Linked DNA regions of Homo sapiens: region 1 is linked to region 2. The links come from fine-mapping of genetic effects on gene expression. A gene starts in region 2. The other region holds a variant in brackets. All regions are shown on one strand. Distances are between the middles of the regions.

Region 1 (2,917 bases), 23 kb before region 2:
CTGACTCAGCTAAAAATCACTGAAGAAAATTCAGCAAAAGGACCACTGATGAGCACTTAATATAGTTAATTGTGGACCTGAAACTAAAATAAAAGTGGGGAAAACATGAAAGAGTAATATATAAATGTTCTATGTTCTGACAAACTAGAAATAACATAACTAAAATTTTAGAAAAGGAAAAGATAAATCTAAAATAAACCCTTTGGTGGATAGGTCATACACAGTACTCAAAGAATACCATTAGAAACTGACAAAACAGATAGTAAAAAATTAAATAAGAAAACAGAAATAAGGGCACTAAGAAAGACATAAGTTAAAAAAATAAAAACAAAACATTACAGAGAAAGAAAAATAGTAAATATAATACTCATAATAATTACAATAATGTGACTGAATTAAGACTACACCTGTAAGTCATATCAATAAATGCAAATGAGCTTAACTCATCTGTTAAAAGATTTTCATTTTGGTTTACAAAGCAAGACACAAATGTCATATGCTGGAGACATGAGACACATCTGAAACAAAGGATTCAGAAAGGCTAAAAATGAAATGATGAGCAAAGGCATACCAGGAAAACAGAAATAATAGAAAACACAGGTAGCAATATTTATGTCATACAAAGTAAAATTCAAGCAATAAACATTACATGAGACAAATAAAGAACTTTTTAATACTAAAAGCCAGAAGTCATGGGAAAGACAGTACAGTTATGAATATCTAAGTATCGAGTATAACAGAGACCACTTTTATGAGGCAGGAACTACAGGAAATGCAAGGAGTCAACTACTAATAGGATACTTTAACAGATCACTCTCAGTGCAATTCAGATCAACCAGAAAAAGATAACAAAGGTTATAGAAGGCCTAAGCAGTGTAATCAATATGATAGGTCGTACGGATATATATCAAAAGTTAAGATGCGATAATAGAATGTATACCTTCAAATGCATGCACAGAATATTCACATAAATAGTTGTTATACTGGAACACAATAATGTAGAAATGTGCAAATACTACTCTGACCACAGCTCAATAAACCTGGAAATTAATCACAAAATCAATAAACTTAAAAAAATTCCCACCAGGAAATTTTTGAAAACCTGCACAACTTATATTTAATGCCCTTGATGAAAGAGAAAGTACTAACCTAAATTACAAAATTTCTAAAAATAAATATAATAAAAATTCTCCTAGTAAGGACCTATGAGAACTAGACCTAACACATATATACAGAGCACTACACCCAACGACAGCAGAA[T/G]GCAAATTCTTCTCATGTGTACATGGAACATTCTTTAAGACAGAGCATACATTAGGCAACAAAATAAGCCTCAAGAAATCTAGTAAGATGGACATCATACAGCGTATCTTCTCCAGCCACAATGGACTGAAACCAGAAATTAATAACAGGAAAACTGGAAATTTCACAAATATGTGGAAATTAAACAACACATATGTAAGTGACCAGTTGGTCAAAGAAGACATCACAGGGAAATTAGGAAATAGTTTGAGATGAATGAAACAAAAGCACAGTATATAAAAACTTATGGAGGCCAGGCTCAGTGGCTCACGCCTTAATCCCAGCACTTTGGGAAGCCGAAGTGGGTGGATCACCTGAGATCAGGAGTTCAAGGCGAGCCTGGCCAACATGGTAAAATCCCTACTAAGAATACAAAAATCAGCTGGGCAGGGCAGTGCATGCCTGTAATACCAACTACTGCAGAGGCTGAGGCAAGAGAATCGCTTGAACCCAGGAGGCGGAGGTTGCAGTGAGCCGAGATTGCACCACTGCACTCCAACCTGGGCGACAGAATGAGACTCCGTCTCAAAAAAACAGAAAACAAAAACAAAAACCAAAAAAACACTTATGGGATGCAGTGAAAGCAATGGTCAGAAATTATAAATTTAGACAATTTAGAAATTTTCATTATAAGTTTAGAAATTTATAATTCCTGACCACTGCTATCACTGCATCCCATAAGTTTTTTTAAAGTTTTTATATGTTGTACTTTTTTAATGTAAACAAATACATGAAAAAAGAATAAAGATCTCAAATCTGTAACCTATCTTTACATTTTGAGGAACTATAATAAGAACAAACTGAACCCAAAGTTAGCAGAAGGAAGGGAATGATCAAGATTAAAGCAGAAGTCAACAAAACAGAGAATAGGAAAAAATACACACTCAATGAAACCAAAGTTGGTTCTGTGAACAGATTAACAAAACTGACAAACTGTTAGCTAGAATGATGAAGAAAGAAAGAGAGAAAACTCATATTACCAAAAAAAGAAATAAAAGTAAAGACATTGCTACCAACATTAAAGAAATTAAAAAGGATTATAACACTATGAACAACTGTACTCCAATAGAATTAGATAACCAAGATGAATGGACAAATTCTTAGAACACTCATATTACAAAAAGTGACTCAAGAAGAAATAAGAAAATATGAACAGATCTATAAAAATTAAAGATACTGACCCAGTAATCAAAAACCTCCCAATAATGGAAGTAGTTTTCACTAATTACCAGTTATGAACAACAATCTTTCTCCAGCTCTTCTAAAAATCGTAAAGGAAGGAATACTTCCTAACTCATGAGGCCAGCATTACTTTGATCCCAAAGTCAGATAAAGGACATTGCAAAAAAAGAAAATTACTATCCAATATTCCTTATGAATATAGATGCAAAAATATTTAACAAAATACTGTCAAACTGAATCCACTAGCATATTAAAAGAATTAAATGTCATGACCAAGTGGGATGTATCCTAAGAATGCAAGGCTGGCTAAATTAATCAATCACATTGAGGGAATGAAAGGAAAAAAAAACCATAATCATCTAAATTCATCCAGAAATGTATGTATAGCATACACCCACAATATATCCAATATCATGTTAAATACTCAACACACCAG
Region 2 (2,917 bases):
TGTGTCACCAAGGCTGGAATGCAGTGGCATGATCTCAGCTCACTGCAACCTCTGCCACCCAGGTTCAAGTGGTTCTCCTGCCTCAGCCTCCCAAGTAGCTGGAATTACAGGCACCTGCCACTGTGACCGGCTAGGTTTTTTTTTTTGTTTTTTTTTTTTTTTTACTTTTAGTAGAGACGGGGTTTCACCATCTTGGTTAGGCTGGTCTTGAACTCCTGACTTTGTAATCCACCCGCCTCGGCCTCCCAAAGTGCTGGGATTACAGGTGTGAGCCACTGCGCCTGGCCGTACTTTCATTTTCAATAAAACCCTTAATTCCTTCCTTGATTTGTTTGTGTGTTTCACTCTTGTCACCCAGTATGGAGTGCAATGGCGCGATCTCGGCTCACTGCATCCTTCGCTGGGTTCAAGCAATTCTCCTGCCTCGGCCTGCCTAGTACCTGGGATTACAGGCACGCGACACCACGTCCAGCTAATTTTTTGTATTTTTAGTAGTGACGGGGTTTCACCATGTTGGGCAGGCTGGTCTCGAACTCCTGACCTCAGGTGATCCATCCGCCTCGGCCTTCCAAAGTGCTGGGATTACAGGCGTGAGCCACCACTCCCGGCCCAACCCCATGTTTTCTCAGGAACTGGAGTTCCCTTTAGGAAGCAAGTAACAGAGGTGCTGGGCTGCCCGGGCCTCTAGGTCGTCTTCTTTCCCAGGCTCTGTGCTCTCACCAGAGTGCGCGTTCGGGAAGCAGGGAGAGGACCAGGAAAGACGCCTGAGACGGAGAGTGGGCACCGGCCGGGGGCAGGCAGGTCCGGCCCCTGGGGGTCAGAGTGCAGCGCCGGTTTGAGGCAGTTCGGCCACTTAGCTGCGACTCGAAGTGAATGAGTCACTTCCCCTCCTCGGGCGAGCTCCTGGCTTTGCCCCAGCAAGCGGGAACTCCCAGGATCAGGAAGGTCCCAGAGAAACTCCCCAGGGGGGAAGCCGAGGCCGTCCAGAGAGATCCAGGGTACACACAGTGACAGTGCCAGCTCCACATTCCCGACCACCGGGCCAGGGCTGGTTCCACGCTGTCATTTCTCTCCGCTGGCCCCAGCCGCGGGGCCACCGCCAGACAGACAGACCGGGGATCCTGCCTGGCGGCGTGACCTTGGGTTAGTCCTAGAGCCGCTTCTAGCCCGGTTTCCTCCGCCCCAGGTTAGGACCACGTGGGTAAGAAGATTTCCTCTGTAGTAGGGGCTGTTTAATGAGTAACAGAACTGGCTGCTGGTTCTTTACAATTGCCCAGCTGCTCTGCAGAGGCGAGAAGCAATTGCGGGCTGAGCCTCCCGGGACCTTCGCGGGAGGGTGGAGAGGAGGAAGGCGGGGGAGGCGGGGCCAGAGGGGCAGAGGAAGGTGGGGGCGGGCGGGGCTTGTCTGCGGGATGGCCCAGGATGCGGTCAGCTGAGTTCGCCGGCCCAGGGCAGGCGGGGCCCGAGCCTAGCGGTAACCCCCGGGCAGGGCGGGGCCGCTCGCAGACTCCATATGAGATTCACCTCGCAGGTGGTTCCCTCATTCGAGTGCTCCGGCGCACAGACCCGCGCCCCGCCGTCTGCGAGCCTCCCGAGAGCCGTCCCTTCGTCCGGCCCTGGAGCATTGCGTTTGTCGCCGGTGTCGCAGTGCGAGGATGGCGCCGCGGGTGTAGCGGCTCTCTGCGCAGGCCGAGTGGTGAGTCGCCCGCGGCCCGGCTCCCGCCGTTCTCTCTTCCCAGGGGTCTAGCCCGTCCCCTGCCTTGGCCACGTGCCCATTTACCTGTAGGGGCGGTGACGGAGGCTCTGGTGCACCTTGGCTGTGAGCTGCAGAGGAGCAGAGAGCGGCCCGGCGCGGCTGCGCGGGGAGGCGGGCGCGCGGCCGGGAGGTTCTGGGGCTGGTGTGTGCGGAGCGAGGTGGGCGTGGGGGAAGCGCGCGGGCGGGATGTGCTTCCTCGGGTCCACCCCGTGCCTACCTCTCCCACGTCCCGGCGACGGAGCGCGCGGGGCTCTGGGCGGGGAGCCCACCGGGCCGAGGCGCAGCGAGGGTGAAGCCAGAGCCGGCAGGGTCAGGTCCCGCAGGGCGCAGGCGGGCGCTTCTCGCAGCCCAAACCCGGGCGGGGAGTGCGGGAACCCCTAGAACTATGCTGGGAGCCCCAGATAAGAGGAAGGAGATGGTGACTTAAGTGACGAAGTGATGTTTTGTCCCCACCGCCTTTTAAAGGGAGAAGGGGGTAAAATTTCATTTGGAGGATGATTGTTACGCGAGCTTTCAGAGTTCAGATGGCGTCAAGTGGCCATCGAGTCAACATTTAACAAAATGTTACCGCATAAAATATTGTCATCGAGTTATCTGGCAGCTCCGCAGAGAAACTTCACAGGCATATGCGTTATATGACATAATTTGCATGGGGAAGGGGGTCCCTTCACGATTCTTTTATATGGCAACCTGTTCTTGGACCTGGCAGGGCCCAGAGAAGCGAGGAACTCCGCAGCTCGTCGACACGTCTCGTCTCCTGTCCCAATTCAGGGCTTGGTGAGGTGACTCGCGGTCGCGGGTGACTCGCCGGCAGGACACTGCCTGGAACGCCTGGAGCGCCTCCCACTGCAGACGTCTGTCCGCCTCCAGCCGCTCTCCTCTGACGGTCAGTTTCAAAGAAACACAGTCTGGGATCCGGAGTAGAAAGAGGCCGTTTCCCGTGAAGGCCATAGAGGCAGTTTCCAGGCGCCTGGGTGACCTGTCTCTGCACTTCCCTCTCTGCTTCTCCATCCCTGTTTCCTTTCCCCACTGTCCCCTGCCTGGCCTTTCTTTGGCTCATTTTCTGCCTTCCTGGGGTCTTCTGGTTAAAAAGACCATTGGTTCCATTCATTGGCTGTAACCGCGGGTCTTTAAAAAACTTTGTGACTTCCTTGAATAGAA

What was found. PIP is the estimated chance that this variant, and not a neighbour inherited with it, causes the effect.
Region 1: its variant is fine-mapped to the expression of UPP1 in whole blood (INTERVAL, PIP above 0.99).

Annotation. Positions count from the first base shown.
Region 1 is chr7:48,064,636-48,067,552 of GRCh38, forward strand. No RefSeq gene overlaps it. Among named protein-coding and RNA genes, the nearest start is that of UPP1, 23 kb to the right of the region's middle. The variant T/G (reference allele first, on the strand shown) is at 1,261.
Region 2 is chr7:48,087,723-48,090,639 of GRCh38, forward strand. UPP1 (uridine phosphorylase 1) reads left to right here and starts at 1,543. Exons shown (of 9, transcript NM_003364.4): 1 at 1,543-1,696; 2 at 2,466-2,642. RefSeq lists enhancers at 546-1,075, 888-1,097, 1,608-2,137 and silencers at 1,238-1,577, 1,918-2,107.